Linked DNA regions of Homo sapiens. The protein of the gene in region 3 purifies or fractionates together with the protein of the main gene of each other region. This does not show direct contact. Each region holds a gene or a part of one and is shown on either strand. Other genes may lie near its edges.

Region 1 (7,923 bases), on a different chromosome or scaffold from region 3:
TCTCGAACTCCTGACCTCAAGTGATCCGCCTGCCTCGACCTCCCAAAGTGCTGGGATTACACCATGCCTGGCCTTCATTCAATACTTTCTGAATGAATAAATGAGGTGCCTACATTGTAGAAGCTACTTTCACATATATTAATTCGTGTGATTCTCACAAGACTCAAAGGTTAAGAGGCTTGCCTCATCACAGATTAGAAGCCACAGGACAGGAATTGAAACCCAGGCTGCCTGACTTTAGGCCCAGTACTCTCTTACTATAAAACAGCTGCTGGGAAACACAGGCATTATGCCCTGTGTCTCTTGACCTGCCCCTCCAAACCTTCTATCCCTACCTCCATTTTGATCCCCACCAAAATCCCGGCCCCCAGAGCAGCCTTACGTGTCAATGATGTACTTGATGTTGTCATGTACAGTGATGTCATCCCGGCCCTTGTAGGGTTGGATGTGGAAGGCCACCTGCCACAAACAGAGGAGTAATGGTCAGGTGAGTGTCTATCTAGGGGCCACAACATATCAGGCTCAGGATCTAACCATGGCCTGGAGGAGAGGCTGAGTTCAGAAGAGGGCCTGGCAGTGGTGGGCACAGTAGAGATAAAGGCAGCTGCTGCCCTTGAAGGCCAAAACAGGGGTGAGCAGTTTGCCCATCTCCCGCAGCAGGGCATGTGGGAATCATTTTGGTGGGCTGTTACAGGGTGGCTAATAGGTTTCAACCTTGTGCCAGCTCCAAGTGGTTGGTGCTAGCTGCCTGAAACAGTGGAATAAGTATGCTGAAGCTGTGTCAGTGGAAAACTGCTGTGATCTGTTAGACATGTCAGTGGTGGAATTCTCTTCAGGAATAGGGGAGTGGGGCTTTTCTTCTTTCTCTATCATTTTTCTTCCTTCACCACAGAAGCAAGGGATGACTTACTTGATTGGCACATGTGGGGAAATGCTTCGTCCAGTCCGTCCTTCCTCTTGAAAGTGAGCCCACCTGCTGAGAACACCTGCCTACTCCTCGAGGTCCAGCACTGCCTCCCACTAGAGAGTTGAGTCTGCAGGTCCCTTTGGCTCTTGCCTACCCTTTTTCCACCAGGGTTTACAACCTAACCTCTATTATTATTTAACAAAAGTGATAATTATTTAGTCTTCTCTTGGTCCTATATTTAGTTTTCTCAGTTTTCTTAGAATTCAAAAAACTAAGAGCAACATAGGCACCATTTATCTGAACCCTCCCCCAAAACCACACTTGCCACATATTTGTTATCCCTTTGGGCTACTGCCAAGAACTTCTGTAGAGGCACTAACCCTGTGGGCGGAGGAGAGCAACTCTCCAGAATAGGGCAGAGAGCACGTGGCCTCTTCTTGGAGACTCACCTGGATGCTGTACTGATGGGCGGTGTCCAGAATGGCGGGCACCAGGTCATCTGAGGGCTCCCCGTTATCATCAGCCATGCCAGGTGGGTACCAGGACAGGACCAGGACGCCTGAGACGCAACACAGAGGCCACTTCAGAGACACACAGTACCCCCCTCAACAGAGATTTTTTTCCTCACAAACATCTCCAATTGCAAAAATGGTTCCTAAAAACCTGAAGCAAGCCTCCTGCCAGGTTCACTTCCTGCAGATGAGTCCCAGAGCCTCGCGCCCCGGAGCTGTCCACGCCCGCGGTGCTGAAGCGGAGCGCCTGCGGGAACCGTAGCGCGCCAGGCCGGAAGGGAGCCAGGCTTTAGACTGCCTCAGCAAGTAGTAGAACAAAGGGAATGGGAGGACAGTGCCACACCCACCTGGAAGCCACAGGCCTACCTCTGAAGAAGAGAAGCACCCCTAACCCTAACGTCCCGCATGGAGAAGAGCCCTGAGCAGAGGCCATCTGTAAAATCCAGCAAAATTCAGTGACGAAATCCGAAATAAGTGAGCCTCCCCTCCATAGCCTACGAAGGAGGCGCCCTGGGACCTTCCCTCCAGCTGGGTGCTTGATGAAAAGCCTCTAAACCCCCAACACTACCTCCAACTGCAAATAGAGCAGAGGCCTTCATGGAACACGGGCACACTTTCCTCTCTGCAGCCAGCAAAAGCAGGAACGGCTGCTGCTCTACCCTGTACCTGCCATGAAAGCAGAGGCCGCCCTAAGTTCCACTCCTCTGAACCCCAGAACCTGCGGGCCAGGACTCCAGGCCTCACTTCCCATCGCCCAACAAATTTGAAGACTCTGCCTCCCTCTCCTGGTGCAAACTCCTAGCAGTTCCGCCCTATGGGAAGGGCCCTGGATGTTAGGGATGGAAGGGCCCAGCTGGGGGGTCTGAATACTAGACGGAGGGGCGGTGTCGCATGGTGGGCCCAGGATGAGAGTGGGAGGGAACAGCTAAGAAGCCAGGCTGGCGGATAAGTGGGACCAAAGGGCCGGTGACAGGACCAGAGGGAGCTGGGGTGTGGGAAGGAGGAAGGGTGAGGCTGGGGGGCAGGGCCGCCCGGGGTGGGGGGCGCTCACCGATGGCGGCTTCCTTGAGCTGGGTCATATGCTCCCGCAGCACTTCGGGGTCCCGGGAGCTGTAGGGCCCCAGCTCCGGGTAGAAGCTGGAGCCCAAGTCGTCTGGGGGGCTGTGGCGGCCGCGGGGGTAGCTGGCCGAGATCTTGGGGTCCCAGTGCGGCACCATGACGTGGTCCCAGTGAATGTAGTGGCCCTCGCGCCGCGGGCTCCCGTACCACGAGTAGTAGAAGGCGTGCAGGTCCGAGTAGACGCGCAGGCTCTGCACGGGGGCGGGCTCGGCCTCCGCGGGTGCCGGCCCAGGGGAGCCGCCAGGGTCCGCGGTGCGGGGCGGCGGCGGCGGCGGGGGCGGCGCGGCAGGGGCTGCCGGGGCCCTGGCAGCGGGCGCGGGGGCCCCCTCTGGGCGTCGCTCAAAGGGCGCCAGCTCCAGGCCCGGGCCCAGCGCCGGGAGTCCGTCCGGAGCCTTGAGCGTGCGCAGACCCATGAGGGTGCCGAAGGCGAAGAGCAGCACCAGGAACAGAGCGATGCAGGCGCGGCGCCGCCGCCGGGCCATGGCCGACTGTGCGCTCCTGCAGCCGCCGCGCTACCTCCCAGCGTGCCGCGCCATGGCCGCCCGCCCGGCCGCGCGCTTCCCAGGCAGACTGTGCGCCCGGCAGAGCGCGGCGTGGGCGGCGCCCGGCCTGTCCCCGCAGTGCGGGCGGGCTCGGCACACAGGACGCAGGCGGCGCGGACCAAGTGGCCGCGAGCCGAGGGGGAACTGCACGCCGAGTGCAACGCAAGGCCCAGCGAACGGCGAGTTTCGGGGCCACAGGAGCAGGGGCCTGAGTCAGGCCGCGTGACCCGCGAAAGAAGAGTCGCCTGGCTGCCTGGGCGGCAGGTGGTGGCGCCTGGCTGGGGAGCGGGGACGCAGGCCTTCCGGAGCGCGGGAGAGAGGCGGCGCGGCGGGGGCGGGGGCGGAGGCGGGGCGGGGGGGGGAAAGAAGCGCGCGTCGGTGGTTCTCTCCCCAAGGATTTCCTTCTTCGTCGATCCACCTTTACTCACTTCACTGGCCCCCTCCCTACGGGTCTCAGTGCCACCCTTCTAGCCCCAGGTCCCCCATCCCTCGGCCCCCCTCCCCGGCACCCCAGGCAGCCCCTGAACCTCGGGGGAAGGGGCGTCGGGAAATCCCCAGGAATCGGACCCTGCAGACGCCGTCCGGGGCCTGGCGGGCGGAGGACGACCGTGACTCGCGCAAGGTCACACTGACCGGGCCTGGACCCCGGGTCAGGGCGCACTCTCCAGAGCTCGCTGCACTGCCCAGCCTGCCGGGTCGCAGTGTGGCTTAGTGAGTTCTCTGGTTGGAATCTCACGAAGCCAAAATTAAGGCGTTGGCAGGTTACACTCCTTTCTGGAGGCTCTAGGAACGGATCTACGTCCAGCTCAATGGCAGAATTCAGTTCCATACAATTGCAGGGCTAAGGCCCCCATTTGCTTGCTGGCTGTCATCTGGGGGTCTTTCTCAGTTTCTAGAGGCCTGCTGCATTTCTTGGCTTGTAGGCCTGATGTCGTCTGGAGCGGTCTCTCCTGGGAGAACCTCCTAGAGTCAGGGAGGATTAAATGAGATGGTTCCCGTAAAGCACTTCCACGGGGCCTGAAAAGCAAGCGCTCAATACATGTGCGCCTTTCTTCCTGGATTCTGGGCTCCAGAGGACAGGCCCCGTCTTATTTACCTTGTTAGACGCCAAGGGCTGCCGGAACAGCATCTGACACTCACTTCCTAGTGCCGTTTAAGTGAGTACCAGCCCCTGGTGTGATAGTCTGTAGATAATAAGCTTTTCACTCGCTATTGATAGAGTTCCTACACTGCATTATTCATTACTTCATTTATTCAGAAGATAGTTTTGTTTATCATATGCCTCCTTCAGTGGTCCGCAATGACAGCAACTTTGTTTCATTCCCTGTCTGCATGTCTAAAACAGAGCTTGGGATGATGGCGGGCACCCAGTTCTTATTGGTTAAGTAAAATGAATTGTAGGGAACCCAGGAAGAGGAGCAGGGAGCTTGGGAAGTGTTGGTAGACCTGCAGCCGAGGAAAGTGAGCTTGAGAGACCTTATGGTGGTAAATGTGAATGAAGTGGAATGCCTTCAGCTCCAGGTCGCCCATACCCGATTCAGCCTGACTTAAGGAATATGCCAGTGTATCAACTTGCAAAGCAAGGAGCCCAGTGGCAGGGCAGAGTGGGTATTTTCTCTGATCCAACAATGTCATTAGGAACCTGAGATGTTCCCGTCTCACTGCTCTACTCTCCCCACCACTGACTTCATATACAAACCCAGTTCCCCTCATGCCACAAAATGGCTGCTATGGCTATTGACTGCTCTTCCCATTCCACAGGCAAGGGTAAGACTGATTTCTCTTTCCCAGAAGTCCTAAACAAACATCTCATTGAATCTCCTTGGTCTAATCTGGTTTAGGCCTTTTTATGCCAGACAAATTATTGCCGAGGGGGATAGAATTACCATGACTAGATGAGATTACATTTGTGGAGTGGGTTAAATGTTGGAGAGAATACCATGTCTACCAAAGAGTGAGGTGACTCTGGGAATAGAAAGAGTGAGAAGAGGCTGGGTGCAGTGGCTCAAGCCTGTAATCCAGCACTTTGAGAGGCCAAGGCAGGTGGATTACCTGAGCTCAGGCGTTTGCGACCAGCCTGGGCAACACGATGAAACCACCATCTCTACTAAAATACAAGAAATTAGCCAGGCGAGGTGGCAGGCGCCTGTAGTCCCAGCTACTTGGGAGGCTGAGGCAGGAGAATTACTTGAACCCAGGAGGCGGAGGTTGCAGTGAGCCGAGATCACGCCACTGCACTCCAGCCCGGGTGACAGAGCGAGACTCTGTCTCAAAAAAAGAAAGAAAGAAAGAAAGAAAAGAAAGAAAGAAAGAAAGAGAAGAAAACGGGTAAGGACGGCACTCTCAGGAACACCAGCATTTCTGGGACAGGCAGAGGAAGGAGAGAGTCTAAGAAGGAAACAGAAAGAATCATTAACGAGGAACTAAGAGAACAGGGAATGGGTGGTGAAGGTTTTGGAAAAATAGTGGGAAGGTTTCCCCAGCTCCCAGTCATCCCACTATTTCTGGGATGCCCTGAAACAATTGTGTCCCCTGTTGGCCATGCCTGGAGTCCTTGACACTGCCACCTGGCCTTGACAGTTTGACCCAGGGCTAGTACTCTGACCTAGTGGTCAAAATTAGTCCAATGATAGCTTCCCATCTTCCACTGGACCAATCATGAATACTGACCCAAAGGGCATCAATTCCAGTCATTTTTTGGGATTTTACTCTCTGGTCTGCAGGAGAGATTTCATCCTCTTTAAAGATAATGCCATTTGCCGGGTGCGGCGGCTCATGCCTGTAATCGCAGCACTTTGGGAGGCTGAGGTGGGAGGATGACTTGAGTTCAGGCTTTTGAGATCAGCCTGGGTAACATAGTGAGACCTCATCTCTACAAAAAATTAAAATATATTAGTCAGGCATGGTGGCACACGCCTGTACTCCCAACTACTCGGGAGGTTGAGGTGGGAGGACCACTTGAGCCTGAGAGGTCAAGGCTGCAGTGAGCCGTGATCACACCACTGCACCCCAGCCAGGGTGACCGAGTGAGACCCTCTCTCAAAAACAAACAAACAAACAAACAAACAAACAAACAAGATAATGCCATTAGAGGGAAGGGACAGAGAGAAACTTAGTGTTATTGGTGTCCTGATTTCAGTCTTCCTGGCGGCCTAGTTGCGGTGTGAAACACTTGACCATTCTTCCAATAAGTTACCCTTTTATTCTGAGCAAGGTGAGCTGATGGAGCTGACTATTGATTGCCTATCAATCTCTGACAAGACCGAGAAGGGGACTTGGGAGCAGGAGGTCATTTGGAAGGTAATCTCAGGAAGTAAGAGTTAGGAATTGAACAGAATGAGACAAGAACAAAAGAAAAGCCAAACCAATGGTGCACTGAGGATGTCGCTGCTATAGATAATGGGGACTTAATTCTGCCACGTCTTTTCAGAAGTGTACAAATGCCTCCCAGAGTTAGGAGGTGTGAGGCTGAAGCAATTACCTACTGACCCCCTCCTCCACTGGTCAAGCATTTTCCCTAGGGGAGTTAACTTCCTTGTATTTCTGGTCTCCTGTTGCCAAGCAGGCTCCCAGGACATCAGAGAAGGTTTTGAGGCAGGTATAAAGAGAGACGGACACATTATTTATTCAAGTGGGATGCCGCCAGTGTGAGGAAGACTAAGCTCGCACAGAACCATCCATCCTAGATGTACTCATTTTCTGCTGTCATAACAAATTACTATAAATTTAGCAGTTAAAACAGCACAAAAGTTTACTGTCTCATGATTTCTGTAGGTCAAAAGTCTAGGCACAGTGTGACTTAGTGAGTTCTCTGGTTGGAATCTCAGGAAGCCAAAATTAAGGCGTTGGCAGGTTACACTCCTTTCTGGAGGCTCTAGGAACGGATCTACGTCCAGCTCAATGGCAGAATTCAGTTCCACACAATTGCAGGGCTAAGGCCCCCATTTGCTTGCTGGCTGTCATCTGGGGGTCTTTCTCAGTTTCTAGAGGCCTGCTGCATTTCTTGGCTTGTAGGCCCCTTCTTCCATCTTCAAAGCCAGCAACATCAGATCTTGTCCTTCTCACACTTTGGATCTCTCTGACCTCCCTTTCTACCTCTCTCTCATACCTTCCTCTTCTGGTTTTAAGAGCTCATGTGATATATTAGATGCCGTCAGATAATCCAGGGTAACTTCCTCTGTTTAAGGTCAATTATTGGCCAGGTGTGGTGGTTCATGCCCGTAATCCCAGAACTTTGGGAGGCCGAGATGGGAGGATCACTTGAGCCCAGGAGTTCGAGGCCAGCCTGAGCAATATAGCAAGACCCTGTCGCTACAAAAAAAAAAAAAAAACAAAAAAAAAACAAACAAAAGACCAGGCACAATGGCTCACACCTGTCCCAGTACTTTAGGAGGCCAAGGTGGGTAGGTTGCTTGAGCCCAGAAGTTAGAGACCAGCCTGGGTAACATAATGAGACCTCATCTCTAAAAGTTTTTTTAATTTAAAAAATTATAAAATATAAGGTCAACTAATTAGTAAACTTCATTCCATTCCACAAAGTCCCTTCACAACAGTAACTAGATTATTTTCAATTGAATAGCTAGAGGACAGGAATCTTGGTGGGGGACATCTTAAGAGTTCTGCCTAAAAACTTTTCCTAAAATCAAGGTGGGCCAAAGAGATGTGACACGTGGCATTCAAGGTATGTATTACACCCATTCTATCGATTAGAATGTGTGTTCAGCCACAAATAAGAAGGAAAACAGCTAAACATGGCTTAAAGTGCTTCTCACACTTTAGTGAGCATGTCAGTCCCTTGAGGATCTTGTTAAAAATACAGATCCTGATTCAGTAGGTCTGGAAT
Region 2 (8,040 bases), on a different chromosome or scaffold from region 3:
ACTATACAGTTGTCAAAATCCAATGTACAACACAATGAGTGAGCCCTAAAGTAAACTATGTATGGGTTTTAGCTAATGACAATATATTGGTTCAAATATTAATTGTAACAAATGTATCACACTATTACAAGATGTAAACAACAGAGCAAACTGAAGGAGAATGTGGGAACTGGGCAGGTTGCAATTAATTTTCCTGAAAACCTAAAACAAAATAAAGATACAATTTGTTTTTTTTTTTTTTTTGAGACGGAGTCTTGCGCTGTGGCCAGGCTGGAGTGCAGTGGCGCGATCTCGGCTCACTGCAAGCTCCGCCTCCCAGGTTCACGCCATTCTCCTGCCTCAGCCTCCCAAATAGCTGGGACTATAGACGCCCGCCACCACGCCCAGCTAATTTTTGTATTTTTAGTAGAGACGGGGTTTCACTGTGTTAGCCAGGATGGTCTCGATCTCCTGACCTCATGATCCGCCCGCCTCAGCCTCCCACAGTGCTGGGATTACGGAGTTTCACTCTGTTGCCCAGGTTGGAGTACAATGGCACGATCTTGGCTCACTGCAACCTCCACCTCCCAGGTCCAAGCGATTCTCCTGCCTCAGCCTCCCGAGTAGCTGGGATTACAGGCATGAGCCACCATGCCCGGCTAATTTTTGTATTTTTAGTAGAGACAGGGTTTCACCACGTTGGTCAGACTCGTCTTGAACTCCTGACCTCAGATGATCCACCCACCTCGGCCTCCCAAAGTGCTGGGATTACAGGCCTAAGCCACCATGTCTGGCCTATTTTTTTTTTTTTTTTGAGACAGAGTTTTGCTCGTCACCCAGGCTGGAGTGCAATGGCGCAACCTCGGCTCACCACAACCTCCACCTCCCAGGTTCAAGCGATTCTCCTGCCTCAGCCTCCTGAGTAGCTGGGATTACAGGTGCACACCACCATACCCGGCTAATTTTTGTATTTTTAGTTGAGCAAGACTGTCTAAAAAAAAAAAAAAAAGTTGTTTTCTGTTAATTTTAATATCTGTGTTAGTTCTGAGACAGTTTTGATTGATTTTTCTCCTCATTTGGGTTATATTTTTCTGCTTCTTTTATGTCTGCAAATTTTTGATAGGATGTAGACTTGTGGATTTTCCCTTGTTGGGTGCTGGTTATTTTTGCATTCCTATAAAATATCTAGCTTTATTCTGAGATGTAGTTAAGTAATTTGGAAACTCTGGTTTTTTCTGTTCTTGCTGTTTAGATTTGTTAAATGGAACCAGAGTGTTGTTATTCCTCATTACTGAGGCAAGACTGAGTACTCTTCCTAATCCCACTGCAATCTCCGCCGCCCAGGTTCCAGCAATTCTCCTGCCTCTGCCTCCCAAGTAGCTGAGATTACAGGTGGGCGCCACCACGCCCAGCTAATGTTTGTATTTTTAGTAGCAACAGGGCATCACCATGTTGGCCAGGCTGGTCTCGAACTCCTGACCTCAGGTGATCCGCCCACCCCAGCCTCCCAAAGTGCTGGGAATACAGGCGTGAGCCACCGCATCTGGCCTTTTTTTTTTTTTTTAGATGGAGTTTAGCTCTTGTTGCCCAGGCGGAAGTGCAATGGTGCGATCTCGGCTCACTGCAACCTCCACCTCCCGGGTTCCAGCGATTCTCCCACCTCAGCCTCCCAAGTAGCTGGGATTACAGGCATGACCCATCACACCCAGCTAATTTTTTGTATTTAGTAGAGATGGGTTTTCACCATGTTGGTCAGGCTAGTCTCAAACTCCTGACTTCAGGTGATCCACCCACCTCGGCCTCCCAAAGTGTGAGATTACAGACGTGCGCCACCGCGCCGGCCAAAGAATTTTAAATGAACATCTTGTGGAACAACTTCAAGCAGCAAGAGGCACATGTAATAGGAGTCTCCAAAGGGAGTAACAGACCAAAAAAACTTGAAGAAATAATAACCTTAAAATGTCCAAATTTGATAAACATTATAAATCTGCAGATTCAAGAAGCTCAACAAAACCCACATACAAATAACATGAACTACATCAGCCTGGCGCAGTGGCTCACGCCTATAATCCCAGCACTTTGGGAGGCCAAGGCGGGCAGATCACGAGGTCAGGAGATCGAGACCATCCTGGCTAACACAGTGAAACCCCGTCTCTACTAAAAATACAAAAACTTAGCCGGGCGTGGTGGTAGGCGCCTGTAGTCCCAGCTCCTTGGGAGGCTGAGGCAGGAGAATGGCGTGAACCCGGGAGGCGGAGCTTGCAGTGAGCCGAGATCACGCCACTGCACTCCAGCCTGGGCGACACAGTGAGACTCCGTCTCAAAAAAAAAAAAAGAACTACATCAAAACACATAATAATTTGCTCAAAAACAGTGATAAAATCTTAAAAGCAACCAGACATACCCTATAAATATATATACCTATGTACCCACGAAAATAAAATTTTTTTTAATTTAAAGAAAAAAGCAACCAGACAAAAAAGACAGATTAGGTACAAAAGAACAAAAATAAGAATAACAGTGTATTTCTTGTCAGAAACAATGTCAGCAGACTGGGCACAGTGGCTCATGCTTGTAATCCCAGCACTTTGGGAAACAGAGGCAGGTGAATAACCTGAGGTCAGGAGTGCAAGACCAGCCTGACCAATATGGCGAAACCCCGTCTCTACTAAAAATACAAAAATTAGCCAGGCGTGGTGGTGCGCGCCTGTAGTCCCAGCTACTCAGAAGGCTGAGACAGGAGAATTGCTTGAACCCGGGAGGCAGAGGTTGAAGTGAGCCGAGATCGCACCACTGCACTCCAGCCTGAGCAACAGAGAGACTCCCTCTCAAAAAAAAAAAAAAGAAACAATGTCAGCAAAAAGGCAAAGGGGCAACACCTTTGAAGTACTGAGAAAAATACGTTGGCCTAGAACTCTACACTAAGAGTAAATATTTTCCAAAACAAAGGCAAAATAAAGATTTTTCAGATGTATGAAAGCTAAAAGAATTCAGTACCAACACTCCAGCACTTCAAAATATCAAAGGTGGCCAGGTGTGGTGGCTCACCCCTGTAATCCCAGCACTTTGGGAGGCTGAGACAGGCGGATCACGAGGTCAGGAGTTCCAGACCAGCCTGGCCAACATTGTGAAACCCTGTCTCTACTAAAAATACAAAAATTATCCAGGCATGGTGGTGTGCACCTGTACTCCCAGCTAATGAGGAGGCTGAGGCAGGAGAATTGCTTGAACCTGGGAGGCGGAGACTGTAGTGACCAAGATGGTGCCACTGCACTCCAGCCTGGGCAACAGAGTGAGACTACATCTCAAAAAAAAAAAAAAAAAAAGGACAAACAGGTGTGAAGGCATGCTTATAGGATTGGGCTAAAAACAGAAGTAATGGATGAAAGTCTGTATAAGAAACACATGACTTACCCCTCCCGATCCTTACAAAGAAATCTGTGGAGAGGCTCTATGCCCATAGCTTACAAGGCATAGATGAGACTGGGGCTAAGAAGCCCTACTGATAGCTAGGGGATAGTGAATGCCCACCTTCTGAACAGTGAGATCCCCAATGCCATTTCCCTGCTCAACTCCCAGAACAACAGCCAGGTCTGTGCCACCCATACAGGAGTAAGGAAGTAAAGAACAGAAGTGGTAACACATAAGAGCATCAGCCTCTGGGAAGTGAAAACTGGGTAGAGAGGAGAATAACACACATGACAGCTGCTTTCTGTTAGAAGCCTTACAGTAGTACCTGACCTTTTAAACTATATTCATGCATTTTATTTAAGAATCTTAAAAACAATCAATATGTATTAATTTTAAATCATTCACTTTGATAAAAAGTTGTTTTCACATCTTCCTTCCTTTTATTGAAAAAAAATTTCAGAAAATAACAGTTCATAAAAGACACAAACAAATCAACAGGTATATACCAGTGGAAAACACAATATGAAACTAAAAATGCCATTGGCTTTTTTTTTTTTTTTTTGAGACGGAGTCTCGTACTGTCGCCCGAGCTGGAGGACAGTGGTGTGATCTCGGCTCACTGCAACCTCTGCCTCCCGGGTTCAAGCGTTTCTCCTGCCTCAGCCTCCCAAGTAGCTGGGATTACAGGCACCCACCACCACACCCAGCTAATTTTTTGTATTTTTAGTAGAGACAGGGTTTCACTATGTTGGCCAGGCTGGTCTCAAACTCCTGACCTTGTGATCTGCCCACCCTGGCCTCCCAAAGTGTTGGTATTACAGACGTGAGCCACAGCACCCGGCTGCCACTGGCTTCTTTAATTGGTTAAGAGCACAAAATGTAACAGGCAGAAGGTCTGTTTCAAACAAATTAAAAAGCTATGTGTTTTTTAAATTCTCCCCAAGTTGGATATACACACACCCACAAAAATAGTGTGTGAAGGAAAGCTGTCATACACAGTAAGTTGTATCCTGAATTATTCAAGGAAACACATGTTGAAATAGGAATTAACAGAGTCAGCAACAGATTAATATTTTTTAACTGAGTCTAAAAATGCTACATAGCCCTAAGGAATACTACATAAAGTACTGCTAGGTACAAACAAAAAAGTCTGTATAGCTTTTAGCAAAAATGTTTTTCCAGAAAAGAAAATTAAAATAATGCAATCAGCAGACCAAGGAGACTACAGCTAGACATCAGAGCTACAACTTCGCATACCTGTGTCAGAAAATCCTATTTATCCACAACAGACTAAAATTTCAGGACAAAACAGGGACTTTTTAACTTTTCTTACTTTACCCATTTTAAATTCTTTGATAAAAGGTTTTTAATTGGGTTAACACAGTACATGCTGAAGTTCATATTTTGTTGTTGTTGTTGTTAATCTGTAAGGTCATTTTCATCCTTACCTTCTTCCCACCTGGCTTCTCCACAGTGAAAACTTCACTCCAGATTTGAATCCCAGTGGTTTCTGGATCAGATCCCCCTCTCCAGGAAAATCCTGTTAACGGTTCTTCTGGGTCACCCAACCAATTTGAATGGCCACTTTCCTTCTACAGAAGTAAGAAATTTCTATTAAATCTTAAATTAAAAATTTTATGCATCAAGGATAATCTATGAGCTTATTTCGCTTTTTTGGACATTAAAGTCTCACTTTTTACTTGAAATAAAATAATTCTATCTTACCTGAGAATATAAGTATCGTAGCATAAAATCCAGAATGAAGGACTTGCCCTTTCGGAAGGCACCAGCCACTGAAACCACCACCACATCAAGATCTCGGATGTGGTCCTGCAAGAGGATGCTGGCCAAGGCTTTCTCATCTAGCTCAAAGGAATGTTGATCTTTCTGAACCAAAACAACCTGCACTGGACCAGGCTTGCTGCTCTCCATGGCATCATCTATGTTCATGCAGAGAAAAAAAATCAGTGTCAAATATTTAAAATATGTTTTTGAATATAGGGAAAACAAAAACTTCTTAAACAGGGGACAGGGCCAGGCTCAATGGCTCATGCCTATAATCACAGCACTTTGGGAAACCAAAGCAGAAAGATTACTTGAGGCCAGGAGTTTCAGACTAGCCTGGGAAACGGTGAAACCCAGCGCTATGAAATTTAAAAAATTAGCCATATGTAGTGGTGTATACCTGTAGTCCTAGCTACTTGGGAGGCTGAGGCAGGAAGACTGCTTGAGCCCAGGGGTTTGAGGTTACAGTGAGCTATGACCACACCACTGTACTCCAACCTGGGTGACAAAACTAAACAAAACAAAAAACGGACACAAAAATACTAACCATAAAAGGGCAGGGCACAGTGGTTCGCCCCTGTAATCCCAGCACTTTGGGAAGCCGAGGTGGGTGGATCACTTGAGGTCAGGAGTTCAAGACCAGCCTGGCCAACATGACGAAACCCCATCTCTACCAACAAATACAAAAATTAGCTGGGTGTGGTGGCACGCACCTGTAAGTCCTAGCTACTCGGGAGGCTGAGGCACGAGAATAACTTGAAACTGGGAGGCAGAGGTTGCAGTGAGCCGAGATCATGCCATTGCACTCCCACCTGGGTGACAGATAAGACCCTGTCTCAAGTTAATGGGTGCAGCACACCAGCATGGAACATGTATACATATGTAACTAACCTGCACATTGTGCACATGTACCCTAAAACTTAAAGTATAATAATAATAAAAAATAAATAAAATAAAATGTTGTTAAAAAAAAAAAGACCCTGTCTCAAAGAAAAAAAGTACTATCCATAAAAGAAAATAAAATGACAACACAGACTTCATTAAAATTAAAAACTTTGTTCACTTAAAGACTTCAATAAGTAAAAATGCAAGCCATGGGCTAGGGAAGAGTATTCACAATATCTGTTTCCAAAGGACCCACATCCAGCATCAACATAGCAATCCATAAGAAAAAAATAACAGGCACTTTGTAAGAAAAAGATATACAAATCCTATTAAAAGGTACTTCCATATCATTACTTAACAGGGAAATCTAAATTAAAACCACAATAAGATACCACTACCTGCCCATCAGAATGGCTAAAATTTAAAGACTGACAATATCAACTGTGGGACAGGGTATGAAGCAACCGCAATTCTCACACATTCTGATAGGAGCACAAAATACTAAAGCCACTTCAAAAAACTGTTTGGCTGTATCTACAAAAATTAAATATATCTGTGATCCAGCAATTCTACTCCTAGGTATACACCTAAGAGAAATGAATGCCTATGTCCACCAAAAAACATATATACAAGAATGTTGAGCTGGGCATGGTGGCTCGCACATATAGTCCCAGCTACTTGGAGAGCTGAGGCAGGAGGATTACTTGGGCCCAGGAGTTCAAGACCAACCTGGACAATATTGCAAGACTCTATCTCAAAAACAGAAAGTTCATTATCAGCTTTACTCAAAACAGTCCAAAAGTGGAAATAAAACAATGTCTATCAATAATAGTGTTTGCCACTGCTAAGCTTTATTTAGATATATATATACACATATATATATATTATTTAATCCTCAGAACAACTCTTTGATGTAAATAATACTGCTCCATTTTAAGAAGAAGGAAATGGCCAGGCTCAGTGGCTCACATTTACAATCTCAGCACTTTGGGAGGCCAAGGCAAGCTGATCACTTGAGGTCAGGAGTTCAAAACCAGCCTGGCCAACATGGTAAAGCCCCGTCTCTATAAAAATACAGAAAAAAAAAAAAATTAGCCATGCGTGGTGTCGCACGCCTGTGGTCCCAGCTACTGAAGAGGCTGAGGGAGAAGAATTGCTTGAACCGGGAGGCAGAAGCTGCAGTGAGCCGTGATCGCGCCACTGCACTCCAGCCTGGGTGGCAGAGTGAGACTTGGTCTCAAAAAAAAAAAAAAAGAAGGAAATGAAGGCTTATGAAGGTTCAGCATATTGCCCAACAGGTCCTAGATATAAGCTCAAAAAGATCTTTAGGTGGTTGTATTTTGCATATCACTAGTAATAACTCAAAAAGTTTTAGAAGCTATTAATTCTATAGTTCAAAATTAAGCACTAACTATATTATACTTTCCTTACCAGAGTTTCCCTACCAAAGCACAAAGATAACTAATTAATTTGAAATTCAGGCCAGGCACAGCATCCACGCCTGTAATCCTAGCACTTAGAGAAGCTGAGATGGCAGGATTGCTTGAGGCCAGGAGTTCAAGACCAACTTGGCCAATATAGCGAGAGACTGTCTTAAAGAGAAGAGAAGAGAAGAGAAGGCAAGGGGCCGGGCGTGCTGGCTCACCTGCGCAATCCCAGCACTTTGGGAGGCCGAGGCGGGCAGATCACCTGAGGTTGTGAGTTCCAGACCAGCCTGACCAACATGGAGAAACCCCATCTCTACTAAAAATACAAAATTAGCCCGGTGTGGTGGCACGTGCTTGTAATCCCAGCTACTTAGGAGGCTGAGGCAGGAGAATCGCTTGAACCCAGTAGGTGGAGGTTGTGGTGAGCTGAGATTGCACCACTGCACTCCAGCCTGGGCAAAAGAGTGACACTCCGTCTCAAAAAAAAAAAGTGAAAAGAAAGCAAGAAGGAAATTCATTCAGGCTAGACATGGTGGCTCACACCTGTAATCCC
Region 3 (8,040 bases):
TGCCTGAGAAAGCAAAATTGACATCCTACCCAGCCCTGTGTATAAGCTTCATGGTTTGTTTGTTTGTTTGTTTGTTTGTTTGCTTGCTTTTTGGCGGAGTCTCGCCCTGTCACCCAGGCTGGAGTGCAGTGGCTCTATCTCGGCTCACTGCAAGCTCTGCCTCCCGGGTTCACGCCATTCTCTTGCCTCAGCCTCCTGAGTAGCTGGGACTACAGGTGCCTGCCACCACGCCCGGCTAATTTTTTGTATTCTTAGTAGAGACAGGGTTTCACTCTGTTAACCAGATGGTCTCGATCTCCTGACCTCGTGATCCACCTGCCTCAGCCTCCCAAAGTGCTGGGATTACAGGCATGAGCCACCACGCCCAGCCCATGTCATGTTTTTAAGCTTCACGTCATGTTTTCCAGAATGGAAGAAAAGGTATTTTGCATCCTGAGATTTTACAAAAGGGACGTCCTCTCTCACATGAGCCTCAAAATTAAAATAAAGAAAAGCCTTGTGCCACTGTCTCATAAATTGCTGATTCCCTAGTGAAAACAACTTTATCTCTGACTTTTGTGACACTGACGTCTACAGATACGTGACAATCTATGTAGATGTGGTAATTGTGGAGAATACTGCTGACTTTCCACCAGTAAGAATAATGAAGAAATCCATTGTAACCCTGTGAGTTGACATTGTCTTTTAAATGCTCACCACACCCTTTATTCAGGGAACCTGGTTCTTGGGAAGGCTACACTCCCTTGTAAATATTGCAGGTCAAACTCTCCTCTTAGTGCTCATATTTGTTCTGAGTTTTCTTTTGGCTCATCTCTCCCAATCGCTAACACATTAAAGAAACCTGAAAAGCTAGAAACAGTCTCACTCTATCACCCAGGCTGGAGTTCAGTGGTGCAATTATAGCTTATTGCAGCCTCGAACTCCTGGGCTCAAGTGAATCTCCCATGTCAGCCTCCCAAGTAGTTGGGACTACAGGTGCCTGCCACCATGCCTGGCTAATTTTTTTTTTTTTTTTTTTAGAGAAGAGGTCTCCCTATGTTGCCCAGGCTGGTCTCCAACTCCTGGGCTGAAGCGATTACCCAGCGTCGGCCTCCAAAAGTGCTGGCATTACCACCGCACCCAGCCCATCATTGGATTTACTTAAACTGAGTTTTCGGCAAACTCCAACAATATTTCCCATAACGTCAGTTGTGTGCCTCATCTTGGTAATTTTAGGTACTACACAGACTTACTAAATACCACCAAATCACACAGTGAGATGTATTATCTCTCCTTCTTTACCTTCATTCCTTCTGATTACATCAAGGAGAAACATCTCACATTGATATTGATATTTCTTTAACTGCTCTTAGTAGTGTCCCCTAGTATCCTCTTTTAAGCAAAGATGGAAATCACTGCAGGCTTAGAACATTCCAGTCACACTAGAGAGCAAAAATTCAATCACACTGTTTTGTTTTCAATCTAACTTATTTTTATGATCACTTTCTAATTATGGCAAGTGTTGCCGGTTTTCCATTTAGGGTGGCTTCAAAATAAAGTTGCTTTTAAACAATATTTATTTTAACTATACTTGCACAGTATGTGTTAGATTTGCAAATCCATAGCATATCTTTAGAAAGATACACAAAAACAGGTACCTATGGTTGCTTCTGGGAAGAGGAACTTCTTGGCTGAAAGACGAGGTAGAAAGGAAGGGATTAATTTTCTCTGAATACCCTTTGTCACTTTTGAATTTCACAATACAAATATCTTTTTTTCTTTCTTTCTTTTTTTTTTTTTTCTGAGACGGAGTCTTGCTCTGTTGCCCAGGCTGGAATGCAGTGGTGCTATCTTGACTCACTGCAACCCCTGCCTCCCAGGTTCAAGCAACTCTCCTTCCTCAGCCTCCCAAGTAGCTGGGACTACAGGCGCACGCCACCACGCCCAGCTAATTTTTTGTATTTTTAGTAGAGATGGGGTTTCACCATGTTGGCCAGGCTGGTCTCAAACTCCTGACCTCAGGTGATCCACCTGCCTTGGCCTCCCAAAGTGCTGGGATTACAGGCGTCAGCCACTGCACCCAGCTGAATATCTTGTCTATTCTAAAATATATAAACTGAAGGGGAAAACTTGTTCTTTGTGATAAATTATCATTTTTAAATGGGCTAACTTAAGCAAAAAAATTAAGAAGGTTGGATGAGATGGCTCACACCTGTAATCCCAGCACTCTAGGAGGTGGAGGCAGAAGGATTGCTTGAGCCCAGGAGTTTGAGACCAGCCTGGGCAACAAAACAAGACCCTGGCTCTAACAAAGGATTTTAAAAATTAACCAGGTGTGTTGGTGCACACCTGTAGTCCTAGCTACTTGGGAGGCTGAGGTGGGAGGATCACTTGAGCCTGGGAGGTTGAGACTGCAGTGAGCCTTGACTGTGCCACTGCATGAGTCTCAAAAAAAAATTAAGAAAATAATAGTAGAGGTCATGCTGGGCTTTGGCAAATGTCATGAAGGTGGCACAAAAATGTCTGAAATCTGAAAAAATTCTCCCTCCCAAATAACTATGCCACCATTTGGAAGGCAGTGTGAGAGGTCCTTTAGCCTCCACCTAGAGCAGACACTTCTGGCTTTCTCACTTGGGGAGTGTTCATGGTGGCTGGTGGCCATGGACACTGAGGTGGAGCCATTGTCAGCTCCTCTGATTTGAAAAGCTTAGGAAGACACCCAATGGACCCATGCCCAGGAAATCCACGTGATGCTCCGGCTCCAGATCACCCAAGCCCAAACCTCTGTCTCATATGCCCTGGAAAAACATACTTAATAATAACTTCCTCAGAAGCACAAGGTCATTTCCCCTCCCGGGTGGCTTTTACCCACCTCGTCAAGCTGCTTGTGAACCTCACAGTGCTTCAGCCCAGCCATGCAGCCCATTAGGAGAACAAAGTGGCAGCTGAACCGGCCTACAGCAGCCTGGCACCAAGCCTGGCCAATGGAAAGCATTTGACAAACGAATGGATTAACCTGCACCGGAGTTAGCTCCAGCAGAGACAGTGAGTCCCACAGGTTTAGGTTATCTGTGTGACTTATCAGTTCTGAGTCACTACCCCGCAAAGCCCCACTTCCCTATCACCTGCCCTGAGCCCTCACAGGTGGAGATGACCTCTCCTCAAGTCCTCCAGGGGATCTGATCAATAGGGAGCTGTGTGCTCCCCCACCCCGTCCCCATGCACCCTGTCACTCGATCATACAGGAATGATTCATAGAGGTCTAACCAAAGTTATTCTACAGCCCTGCATACCAGATACACAGAATATTACCAAAGCATTACCAAAGCATGCAGGTAATAGCACCTGTTGAGCATTGACTCTGCTTCAAATCCGCTAGGGCCCTTTGGATGTGTCTCCAGATATGTGCAAGGTACAGCAAGTGCCTCTGTACAGCAGGCCATGAAGGACATGCCCACCATCGCATCTTATCTCCTGTGAGTACCAGCCCCACACCTTCCCTAATTTCAGGATAGTTGCTTTCAGGGAGATGGCATGGGTAACATTCAAAAATATAAAATGAATCCAGCTCCCGGACCAATCAGAAGAGAGCCCTGCTGGCTACAGAGATGAAGCAGGGTCTAGTCACTGGCTCTTTGGAAGGTCCAGAGAGTCCAGGTTAGGCTGGGGAAGCCAGGTCTCCCAGGCAGAGGGCATTTCCGGAATCAGTATGGAAACATCCTATATCTTCAATCTAAGACACCATCAATCATAAGATACATGCTAATTTCAGAGATGTTAAAGACGCTTCTTAGAACCTTTCAGTGGTATTTTCACACGTTAACATCCAAAACAGGCTTAACAATGTGTGTAGCTGGAAAGTACTGGGGCTGTCAGCATCTTCTCCACCTAAAATGCTCCTGTAACAAGTGATAGGGTTTGGCTGTGTCCCCACCCAAATCTCATCTTGAATTGTAGCTCCCATAATTCCCACATGTTGTCAGAGGGACCAGGTGGGAGATAATTGAATCATGGCGGTTTCCCGCATACTGTTCTCGTGATGGTGAATAAGTCTCACGAAATCTGATGGCTTTTTACGGAGTTTCCCCTTTTGCTTGGCTCTCATTTCTCTCTTGCCTGCTGCCATGTAAAACATGCCTTTCTCCTTCTGTCATGATTGTGAGGCCTCCTCAGCCACATGGAACTGTGAGTCCATTAAACCTCTTTTTCTTTTTAAATTACCCAGTGTTGGGTATGTCTTTATCAGCAGTGTGAAAATGGATTAATAGACTAAGGCTTTGGGGAAAGCCTGTTCTTCATTCCCCTTCTCAGCTCCAAGGGGAAGGGAAACCAGCTCTTCAAAAAACTTCCTTGAGCAATGACAATTCTTGTTGCCCATTCCGAATGTTCCTCCATGCCTGACAAGAACTGTACATTTGCTGGCACTAAGTATTATATCTACAGCATGCTGCAAGGCTGACAGAGTGCTGCAAGACAAATGGGGGGGGGTTTATGGACTCAATGGTTTCATTTAATCATACTGTGTGACGTTCGCCTGGACCAAGACAGGGAATTTCTGTATAAAGGCCTAAGTCTGCATAGATGCTGCAATTGTGCATGCAGGTGCACATGTGTGGGTGTGCACACACATTCATCTATGTGCACACCCAATGAGCACAGATCAGTCTGTTTTGTGTGTTGATCAATTTGTTGAAAGATGATAAAACTGTCTGCATTAACTACGTCATGGCAGGAGGCCCCTTACCTTCTGCCTTTGATTTTATTTTTTTCTAAGGTTTGCATTTCCAGAATTGGGCTTTGCAATTAGAATATGATTTCTTGATGAAAATGAACTGGATAATGTGATAGATCTTATTCTGGGCTTTTTATTCTCTTTCGTACTTAGACTGTTGCCTCTGGGGCAAATATTCTGTCTTCTTTGCTTTGCACCATCCCAAGAACATCATCGATGCTGAACAAATAAATAACCAGAGTTGTGAAGTGAAGTCTGAAATTTATAGAACAGGCTCATCTATCAAAATTTGGACACCAGAACACAGAGTCAATTATCACATATTAACTTGCTCTTGTTGGCATTTCAATGCATTTAGAAAAGATACACTTCCTCCACACACACATTCCCCTGCCATACCGAAACACCAGCAAAATTGAGAACACTTCAGACATATCTCAGCTTTCCCTGTGACTCTAAAAACTACTACACACAGCAAAGCTTATATCTGTTTATAAAAGATGACCCTGAAGAGTCTATTTCACATCCAAACTTCCTTAGAATGGAGAGCATCCTAAAGATAACCTTAGATTTGGAAAAACATTTTCATGTAGATAGTCTTACTTGATTTTTATAAGGTTGCAAAGCAGTTCAGGCATCATTGCCATTTCACAGGTGAGCAGACTGACACCCAGATATGTGAACTGACTTTCTGTTAACATGGAAGGAGGGAAGGAAAGAGAAAAGGAAGGGAGGAAGGGAGGAAGGAAGGAGGGAAGGAAGGAAGGAGGGAAGGAAGGAAGGAAGGAAGGAATGAAGGAAGGAAGGAAGGAAGGAAGGAAGGGAGGGAGGGAGGAAGGGAGGGAGGGAGGGAAGGAAGGAAGGAGGGAAGGAAGGAAGGAAGGAATGAAGGAAGGAAGGAAGGAAGGGAGGGAGGGAGGGAGGGAGGAAGGAAGGAGGGAAGGAAGGAAGGAGGGAAGGAAGGAAGGAAGGAAGGAAGGAAGGAAGGGAGGGAGGGAGGGAGGGAAGGAAGGAAGGAGGGAAGGAAGGAAGGAAGGAATGAAGGAAGGAAGGAAGGAAGGGAGGGAGGGAGGGAGGGAGGAAGGAAGGAGGGAAGGAAGGAAGGAAGGAAGGAAGGAAGGAAGGGAGGGAGGGAGGGAAGGAAGGAAGGAGGGAAGGAAGGAATGAAGGAAGGAAGGAAGGAAGGGAAGGAGGGAGGGAGGGAAGGAAGGAAGGAGGGAAGGAAGGAAGGCAGGCAAGGAGGGAGGGAGGAAGGAAGGAAGGAAGGAAAAGGAGAAGGGAAAGGGGAGAGAGGGAAGGAGGAAGGGAAGGGAAGGAATAAAGAGGAAAGTATGGAACTATCTTTATAGCAATTGATTAATTCCTCAGCCCGATTTAGTAACAGCAGCAGCATCAGAAACTAATATTTTTAATACTAACAGAACTAATAGTGATAACAGGAGTGTTGTAGTAATTAGTAGCAATAACAGTAGTAACATTACTGCCTTGTCTTTATATATCATAGAATTTTCCAGGGCAATTTCATGTACAGTTTTGCATTTATTCTTCACAACACGTTTCTAGGATAGTTACTACAGGTCCCATTCCATGATGAGGAAGCTGAGACTTGGGAGAATCACCTTTCTTCAAATCATACAGCACCTAGGTGACCACCTCTGGTCTTCTGACTGTGGTTCCCTGTCCTGGTTCCCTCATCAGCCTGGTGTTGCTTTGCCCACCTGTCCAAGCAGCTAGGAGATACCACCCTGCAGCTCTTACCTCGGGGAGGAAATGTGGGTGGGGGAGAACCCAGGCCAGACACATAGTTGAGGTAAGCATCAGAGATGGCATGGCAGAAAGACAGCAAATTGGAGAGAACCCACTGCAGAAGGCTGGGCTCTCTGGTAGTGGCCTGAACGGGAGTGGTTCCCAAGAAGGATCAGGCTAAGGACAAGAAGGTGCAGACTCTGTCTCCTGGTCTCTCCAAATGATGGTGTCTTTCTGGCTATATCACTCGGCCTTCAGCTTTATCTCCATTTACCCACAGAAAGAAGCCCCTCCTTTGGGTTAAGGGTAAAGCTTTTGATTTTTCCACTATCTGGATTTCAGCCTCCTGATCAGGAAGTTATCACCAGGGGCTTTGATGTGGGCAGATCATACTAAGATCCACACTGCCTGCAACTCTGCACCTCCCCCTTTGGAAAGCACAGTCCACTCCAATGGGTGCAAGGGTTCTTTGGCTATGTCTGCCCAGTGGACCCTGGCTTTATGATGGCAAGCTGTGAACTGACAAGGCAGTGGACAGAGAGCGGAACATCCTGTCACCCACCGTACCTAGCTCATGGGATTCAGGAAGAAAGTAAGAACATGGGTTTTAAAAGATTCCAGAAATCCCCATGATTTCTGCAGTTAATGTGTATGACTTGGTCATAATAAAAAGAAATGTACAAAAATGTTCTTTACATACAGAAAGATGTTCTGGAGGTTATGGAAACAGCATCTAAGTGGGGTAGTATTACCCTGCACAGAAATGGCAATCCACAAGCTAAACACTTGACTCTAGGGGTGTGGATTTGTAACTGAAAGAAGCACAAACCACACAGCCTTTTCCTGACACTGGAGCCTCCCAGCCTTCCTGGTCAAGCAATGGGGAGAGGGCAATTACGACCAGACCTCTAGGATAGTCTTTTAGAAATATAAAGTGGGGAAAGGTGGTAGAGGGGGAGAGAAGAGAGAAGCAGAGCTGTCAGCATGCTTGATGTTAAATAAAACCTACCAAGACTCAGCTGAGAATTTTAGCAGAATCCAAATGTGCTAAAAAAAAATAAATAAATAAAAAATAAGACATGGCTTCCCTCTCTAAGGTTCACAGCTAAGCTTGCTTAGAATCACACATGCCAAGGTTAAAAATAAAAAGCAGCCATCCCTGAATGACATGGGCTCCAGGATGGAAGCCTGAGGTATGCTGTTTAGTGGTGGAAGGAAGAGAGGGGAGGGAGGAGAGTCTGGGTTCAGGGCATAGGTATTTATTGGAGGGCACACTATCTGAAAGCCAGATGCTCAGAATTTTGCTGTTTTGCACTTAAAAGGCACTTCGCATTGGCAAAAGGTGTCATAATGATCTTCAGATTTTCCATCGAGGAAATGCTGGCCTGCATTCGAATGTGGTCATGGCTGACCCACTCTGGGCTCTGCTGTTCAATGTGTTTGCCTCCTCCATCCCGGGATCTGACTCAGACAGTGTCCACATGCACCTAGACGGGATGCCCATGAGTCACAGCTTGGAAAGCACAGTGGGCTATTGGCATTGGCATGAAGCCAGATCTGCCACTCTGTGCCACCCTACCCTA
Region 4 (8,040 bases), on a different chromosome or scaffold from region 3:
AATGGAAAGGAATATATTATTTGTCAATATGATGGTAATAACACTGTGTATTAAAAATCTCACTCTTCAGTATTGGAATTTGCTAGAATTTCTTAAGTATCATAATCACCATCACTATTAATATCTACCAAGTGCTTATTATGTTACAAGCACTTAGTAAGGAATTTTACTGTAAATATCTTATGGTATTAGACTTAATCCTCAAAATATCCCTACATTTTGTTTCAGGTTGTATTATTATTTGCATAGGTTGTATTCCTATATTTTGTAATAGGTTTTATTATTGTCCCCATTTTACAGATGAGGAAACTGAGGTTTAGAGCTATGTAACTTGACTAAGGCCGAATAAGGGACAAAGCTAGCATTCAAACTTGGCTCTGTCAGATTCCAAAGCCTGTGTTCTTTTTATGATTGTATTCGAATATGACTAAACCATAATTGAATCTCATGGGCAAAACCCAAAAATTGGACCAATAAAGTGACAGATGAAATCCAACAAGGGTGATTTCTTCTTATACACAGTTAATCCTCCATCTAACAATAATTAATTTCTTCATCAGTTCAAATGCAGATAAGTCAGTACCACGATATTCTTTTATAATTAAAAAGCATGAGCTTACACTCAAATCTACTAATATTTTAAGAACATTTTGTGGTAGCATAGACTAAGAACACCAAAGTTTGAACTCCTAAAACTGACAAGAAAAAACTGACTTTGCTTTGAACTGAATCCAAATAACACAGAAATGGATCGTTTATACTCACATAACTTAGTATTTGTGCATGCAACGTAGATAGCATAATTCTACATTGAGAAATGAAGTTCAGATTCGAAAAGCAGACATTATCAAATTCATACTCGAAATGAGTATGTCCAATACTCGTAACTAAAAGCATCCAAAAAACTGTGAAGTTACAGAAATTTTCCATTTTCTTTTCTTATTTTTTTTTAGTCTGCTAGACAAATTCTAAAAGAGCTAAAAATATGGAACACTTCATGAATTTGTGTGTCATCCTTGTGAAAGAGCCATGCTTATCTTCTCTTTATCGTTCCAATTTTAGTATATGTGCTGCTGAAGCAAGCACTTATTTTATTTTTGAGACAGGGTCTTGCTCTGTCACTCAGGCTGAAGTGCAATGGCATGATCAAAGCTCACTGCAGCCTTGACCCAAGCGAGCCTCCCACCTGAGTCTCTGAAGTAGCTGGGACTATAGGAATATGCCGCTACATCCAGCTAACTTTTTATTTTTTGTACAGACAGGGTCTCACTATGTTGCCCAGGCTGGTCTTGAACTCCTGGGCTCAAATGATCCTTTCATCTTGGCCTCTCAAAGTGCTAGGATTATAGATGTGAGCCACAACGCCCAGCTGAGATTTTTCCATTTAAAATATACCAACAGATTTTCACTTTTTTGCCTGGTTCTTAAAACTATGAATGGCCAGTACAGCAAAAAGTTTTATTCGATTTTTAGACTGTCCTATAAAGTCAGTTTGAGTTGTTCCATCTCCCTCTACCAGTTTACTGAGCATCTCTTGAAAAGTGTATGGAAGATATTAAAAGTAGGGTCCCTAGAAATAAACCAGATACTTGGTTTTCATAAATACATAGGAATTTAATAGCTTAGAAACTGTTAAATTTTCACCTGTTCCTCTCTAAAAACTAAAATCACATTCCACAGGTCTGCTAGAAGAAAATGATTAGAGTTTGGAAAGTATCTGGAAAACACTATGCAATTGCCTAGACTAAGTTTTCCTCCTTGATTTATTATTTCATTATCTTCAAAGCAAACTATTGCTTTGTAATAGTTGTCATGAGCCAAAACTTACTTGTTAAAAATATTTCTTGGAGGAAGCAGCAGAGGAATAACAGTATTACTCAAGCATTCACAAAGGGGGCAAAGGAATTCTCCGTTTTCTACATCATAGCTCGTATGTAAGCGTAATCTCTGTTGCCTTCGCTGTTCTTTAGCTTGAACGGAATCAAAATACCTTTACAATTAGAGAACATGAGGTATCAAAACAATGGTAATTTACATAAATGACAGCCATAAGCTTCAACATTTAAAATAATTTGTTTCCACAAATAGTTCAAAAATGAAAATCTTAAACTAAATTATTTTTAACATGATTTTTGAGTGATTTTAAAAATCCAAATGGATTAAAAGTTCTAAAAGAGTAAAATAAAAAAAAAGACTGCCATGTAAAAAAGCATTCACAAAGCAGCAACAAAAATTTCTTGGTGTCATTGTTCTCTTGCCACTTCCCCAAGGCTGGTGGCTATTTGTTTTTTTTTTGTTGTTGTTGTTGTTTTTGAGATGGAGTCTTGCTCTGTCGCCCAGGCTGGAGTGCAGTTGCACAATCTTGGTTCACTGCAACCTCCACCTCCCACATTCAAGCAATTCTCCTGTCTCAGCCTCCCAAGTAGCTGGGACTACAATGTGGTGGCTAGTTGTTAGGGGTAGTTCATGATAACTGGGTGAGCATAGTTCTAGAATAATAGTATTATTGATTTGTTGGTTTTGTAGAAGCATAGGAAACACCAAGGTAGAACAAATTCAGGACATCTCATCACAGGGAGCCATTACAATTTTGGGAAGTAACAAAGCAAGTACTAACATCTATGGAATCAAAAGTTGTCCACCCTGGACCCAAAGAAAGACAACATTACCCTTCTAGAGTTTATCCTACTGTAAAAACCCTTTTCTTCATCCACAGACTGATACAGATCCACTTCCTTCTTTGGAAGATATAGAAGAGACTTGGATATAAAGCTAAATTAAAAAACATATCTGACATACACTTTACATCTATGACAAGGCAAATAACTTTTGTTATTTATTAGGCAATGATACGGATTTTTTCAACATTTTTAGTTCTTTTCCTTTTTTCTAGAATGAAATTTCCTCTATTTAAAAAATATTGAGCCCTTAGATAAACTTCTCTTGACAAATATTAAGAATATACATTACCTTTGCCAACAATGGGCATGCATAATGTGCCCACAGCTACTAGTGTGTGTTCCACAAGACAGATCAGGGTGCATGAATAATGGATCATATTTTTCTGCATTACAAAACAAAACAAAACAAAACAAAAGTGAAGCATTTAATTTTCCTATAACAAATGTGTAACTTTAAATTGTAAAATCCTTGATAAAGACTTGAAATTTGAAATGAAATGCTAGTTTATTCCTCTGAGATACCAATTTATGCAACACCTTGGATTATTTAGAAAGTAGGACTCTCTAATTTTCACCACCCACAGCAAATTAATTAAACATTCTCAAATTGTTAAACTGAAATTAGAACTATGAATTTAAATATATCCAATCTTTTGAACATTTCACACTTTCAGGGTGCTGAGATATTCCAATTCCTCCCATTGTACCCTGAGCTCCAGGTAAAAGAGCTACTCTCTTCATGGGGCTGCCTTATGTGCGTTCAGGGCAGCTGGGTTAAAATGATCGCTAATAAAAAATGTTTTGGCAGTAACGGGGCGCCCCCTAGAGGACAGACTGCCTAACAACACTCATACAGCGAATAATCACATCAGAGCCAAAGTGACAACAAAAAATCTAAGCACAGACCAGATCAGATGGGGGGAAAAAAGGTAATTCAGAGTCTTCTGTCCTGGTGCTAATTTTTATATTCAAAGGGGATGAAAAATCATGAAAAACAAGATGGATGTCTGGCTTCTTTTGGAATTTTTGAATTCTTTATATAAATTAGTATAATCTTCGAAATTTCCTAACACTCTAGAAAGAACTACTTTTAATTTGCTTTAATAGTTTTAATTTGCTTTAACACTAGAACAGTGCAAATGTCAAAGCATTAAGAAAATCCACTTATAGCCAGCTAATGCTTTTTCTTCAGAAGTAATAAGTTAAATAAAATTAGCAACTTTGTCTTTGGCCTGGAATGAAATTTATAAAGCACCTAGTTTAAATATCTTTTTTTTTTTTAAGACAGTCTCGCTTTGTCGCCCAGATTGGAGTGCAGTGGCGCGATCTCGACTCACTGCAAGCTCTGCTTCCTGGGTTCACGCCATTCTCCTGCCTCAGCCTCCCGAGTAGCAGGTAACTGCCACCACGCCTGGCTAATTTTTTTTTGTATTTTTTAGTAGAGATGGGGTTTCACTGTGTTAGCCAGGATGGTCTTGATCTCCTGACCTTGTGATCTGCCTGCCTTGGCCTCCCAGAGTGCTGGGATTACAGACATGAGCCACTGCGCCTGGCCTTTTTTTTTTTTTTTAAAAACAAACAAACAAACAAACAAAAAAACCACACAGGGTCTCGCTCCGTTGCCCAGGCTGGAGGGCAGTGGTGCAATCTCGGCTCACTGCAACCTCTGCCTCCCAGGTTCAAGCAATTCTCATGCCTCAGCCTCTTGAGTAGCTGGGACTACAGGCGCGTGCCACCAAATTTGGCTAGTTTTTTTTTTGTACTATTAGTAGAGATGGGGTTTCGCCATGTTGGCCAGGCTGGTCTTGAACTCCTGACCTCAGGTGATCCACCTGCCTCGGCCTCCCAAAGTGCTGGGATTACAGGCATGAGCCACCATACCCAGCCTAAATGACCATTTTTAAAGATGAAGCAGACCAACCTTTCATAAGTAGGATGCAAAGACTTTCTTTACAGAGAGAAGGCAACTCTAAAAGTGGGCTCTCAAACCTCCTTTCACGCTGCAGTGTGAAAGGCACTGGTTAAAGCAGTGCTCTGGGAATTCCCAAGACACAGTTCCTACTCTCAAGAAGTTTACTGGGTATCGCTGAAGCACACGCACACAGAGCACAACCTACAAGCAGAGAAATAAATGTGTCTGTGGTGGACAAAATCATGTGCGGACTGGATCTCCCTGCTTTACTCCCTCAGTTGCTGAAAGAGGGCCCTCAACTGTCCTGCACGGTAATCTGTATCCCAAGAATCTGCTTTCTGGGGAACCCGATCTGTGGTGGTATTACTATTCTAAAACAATTTGGCTCAAGGATTGCCTCTTACATAGGTAACTCTCCATCACTGTTCTCAGGAGATTCCACTCAGGCTCTATCAATAAGACAAAACAATTATTATTTCAGTGTGTCAACAAATGACCAGGACTTTGCAAGTGTACTGAAGGATGGAAAAGACTGTGAAATGCCAAAGTATGTAATGTTACATCACAAAGAAAAGCTTTTCTTTGAATCCCTGCTATTTATCAGCTATGTGATTCAGGTGCAACTTTCTGGAGTGGTTCCACATCTGCCAAGTGGGGAATTCCTGCCTAAGTTACCTGCCAAAGATACCATCCAAGTCCATGGAGTTATTTTTAGGTTTAAAAAATCTCAACGTATCACCAACCACATTAACTGGCAGTTGTTATTAAAAGGGAAGATGAGGATCTAGCTATGACTTACCTGGATCTTGAATAAATTTACTTCTGTTTTTTGATAATACAGTTGATCTCTGAACAAATGCTGCCAAGACCATTGCCCTGCTTTCCACTTTAACTTCTTGCTCCTCTTGACACAATATACATGTAACGAATTGTCTTTGTTCAGGAACCTGAGTTTGTGCGGGGCCCAGTGCTGTAAGTGTCATATCTGAAGCCACAGGGCTGCAATACAAAGGTTATGAATATAATTAATGATCCCAAAACTTTCTATATAATCACAAAATAGCAGACTACAGGTATGTGTGTGTGTGTGTAGTGTGTGTGTGTGTGTGTGTGTGTGTGTGTGTGTGTGTGTGTATATATATTTATTTATTTTTTGAGACAGAGTCTTGCTCTGTCACCCAGGCTGGGGTGAGTGGCACAATCTTGGCTCACTGCAACCTCCGCCTCGCAGGTTCAAGCAATTCTCCTGACTCAGCCTCCTGAGTAGCTGGGATTATAGGCATGCACCACCACACCCGGCTAATTTTTTTTTTTTGTATTTTTAGTAGAGATGGGGTTTCACCATGTTGGTCAGGCTGGTCTCGAACTCCTCACCTTGTGATCCGCCCGCCTTGGCCTCCCGAAGTGCTGGGATTACAGGCGTGAGCCACCACGCACAGCCAGGAATGTATATATTTAACACATGGTTTTGATAACTTGGATTGTCAAGTCTTTGGTATGTATCAAAACCATCTCCTTTAATCCTCACAGTAATCTAATCTTCAACACAGATGTCATACGCTCTAGGTAACTGAGTGTAGTGTACTCATTCTTTCATGAATGTCCAAGGTCTTCTGCAGAAAATACCCTACCAGGTGTACACAGGACTTACCATACCTACATTCAGAGACTTCTAAGATTAAATCTTCTAAATGGAGGTCACAAAATTTACCTATGAATTCTACTAAATTACTTTAGGATTAAAAGTATACTTACAAGGAGAAAACGCAACACTGCCCCTAGTTGGGAAAAACTCGTCAAGACATTAATTTTTTTTTTTTTTTTTTTTACCTATGATCAAGAACAGCAGAGGTTGAGGCATCCAGTTCTAATGTCTGCTGAAAGAGTTCTTTGTTTTCATCAATAAAATGCCGCTGCATTTCAGACATCTGAGCCATGATCTTTTCTCTGCGCAGTCTGGCAATCTCTGCTTTTCTCTTCCTCTCAGCTTTGTCTTTGTCCCTTGAACTCTGAAATTATGCTCCATTCAATTAGACAATTAGATGCTAAAACGCACATTTTTTTCCAAAGCAGAAATATCTTCACTGTAAATACCAATTAAAAAACTATTCTATAATCTCACTTATTTAAATAAGAGAAAAGACTCTTAAACTGACTTGTTTTAAAGAAAAAAAGCAGACAAAAAATTGCTACAACAAATAGAGATAAATAGTGGCATATTTCTTGGAATTTAAATGTTGTGAGTAACTGGCAACTTAATGTAGATAAATTTATTTTGTTCATACTGAACTTGCTGTAATTTTTTAGTATTATCACACTTTTTACTGTTTATACCTCTTCCATTATGGTTCCTTCTGTCTCTGCCACGGGACTGGTAGGTGAACTCTCCCTCATCTTTTTAACAGCATTAAAAGTCTACAAAAAAAAAAGTATCAGTATCCTGTATGAAATATGATCACAATGTACACATAACAAATATTCAATATTTCTCACAAAAAGCAGAGGAATGTGGAAATTTTACCTTCAATATCCACCGAATCATGTCTTTGTGGACTTCTAGGTAGGGAGCATTTTGTAGTGTTTCCAGCATAGCTAGTATGCTAGGAGAATTTTTTGGCGCTTCACCAGGTTCTACGGCAGAAAAATAAAAGGCACAATAACAATAGCTAATACTTCATAGTACTTATTCCTACGCACAGGAACATAAATGCAGTTGCTTATAACACCTATTGCCCATAATTTGATTATGGCTCTACCAAAATAGAGATTTTCAATACTTCTTGAGAATGTGACATATTTGTCTTTTACAAACAAGTTGCCAACAACTAGAATTCTTTAAGGATTCAAAAGTGACTTTTTATAGCAAATGATTATTTTAACATCCCTTTAGCAAAATTACATACAAATTCAGCTAAAAATAAGTGGTGTCTCAGATTTTACAGGTCTAAAAATAAATTAGCATTAAGAGGTGCATATATGCACAAATATGTTTATTTGCTCTGACCATTGACTTTAATAAAAACTAGATTCAGAATAAAATGAATTTCTTCTCCTAGGAATTCATAGTTTGTTTATTTGAATATAAGAGTCAAGTCCATATTTTCTATTAGTCTGTAGCCAGAAAGTTCAACTATTGATTTTCTTGATTTTGGTGCTGCCATTCTGGAAAAATGTCCCTTTTTCCTAAGAGGGGAAGAGATTGACCTGTGTGATCTTTAATATTCTATCACATCTAAAACTGTGGCATGCATTAGAGATGTGACTCTAGATAAGGGAGAGGTTTCTTTGGAAATAAATCGTGTGTCTTAATTATGTAGAATGTCTAAAGACAAGTTAAGAGTAATGTTGAGGGAAAATGATGATTGTTTAATAAGGAAAGAGAAAGTAAGAGAGAACCTAATTTTTTTTTTTTTTTTTTTTGAGACAGAGTCTCACTCTGTCGCCCAG

What was found.
Region 1: the proteins of HS3ST2 (region 3) and MANEAL purify together in Homo sapiens (affinity purification with mass spectrometry; 2 studies listed by BioGRID and IntAct, with this or other methods). This does not show direct contact.
Region 2: the proteins of HS3ST2 (region 3) and ATL3 purify together in Homo sapiens (affinity purification with mass spectrometry; 2 studies listed by BioGRID and IntAct, with this or other methods). This does not show direct contact.
Region 4: the proteins of HS3ST2 (region 3) and UBR2 purify together in Homo sapiens (affinity purification with mass spectrometry; 2 studies listed by BioGRID and IntAct, with this or other methods). This does not show direct contact.

The regions. Positions count from the first base shown.
Region 1 is NC_000001.11:37,789,280-37,797,202, reverse strand, and holds the start of MANEAL (glycoprotein endo-alpha-1,2-mannosidase-like protein), read right to left. Parts: upstream 3,357-7,923; 5' UTR 3,021-3,356; coding exon 2,471-3,020; intron 1,716-2,470; exon of another isoform or gene 1,467-1,715; coding exon 1,357-1,466; intron 460-1,356; coding exon 383-459; intron 1-382.
Region 2 is NC_000011.10:63,653,923-63,661,962, forward strand, and holds part of ATL3 (atlastin-3), read right to left. Parts: intron 5,331-8,040; coding exon 5,116-5,330; intron 5,041-5,115; exon of another isoform or gene 4,983-5,040; coding exon 4,839-4,982; intron 1-4,838. UniProt on the Homo sapiens protein: Atlastin-3 (ATL3) is a membrane-anchored GTPase that mediates the GTP-dependent fusion of endoplasmic reticulum (ER) membranes, maintaining the continuous ER network. It facilitates the formation of three-way junctions where ER tubules intersect.
Region 3 is NC_000016.10:22,816,597-22,824,636, reverse strand, and holds part of HS3ST2 (heparan sulfate glucosamine 3-O-sulfotransferase 2), read right to left. Parts: intron 7,945-8,040; coding exon of another isoform or gene 7,815-7,944; exon of another isoform or gene 6,184-7,814; intron 1-6,183. UniProt on the Homo sapiens protein: Sulfotransferase that utilizes 3'-phospho-5'-adenylyl sulfate (PAPS) to catalyze the transfer of a sulfo group to an N-unsubstituted glucosamine linked to a 2-O-sulfo iduronic acid unit on heparan sulfate.
Region 4 is NC_000006.12:42,657,208-42,665,247, reverse strand, and holds part of UBR2 (E3 ubiquitin-protein ligase UBR2), read right to left. Parts: intron 7,225-8,040; coding exon 7,115-7,224; intron 7,009-7,114; coding exon 6,928-7,008; intron 6,603-6,927; coding exon 6,424-6,602; intron 5,593-6,423; coding exon 5,393-5,592; intron 3,065-5,392; coding exon 2,971-3,064; intron 1,991-2,970; coding exon 1,829-1,990; intron 1-1,828. UniProt on the Homo sapiens protein: E3 ubiquitin-protein ligase which is a component of the N-end rule pathway.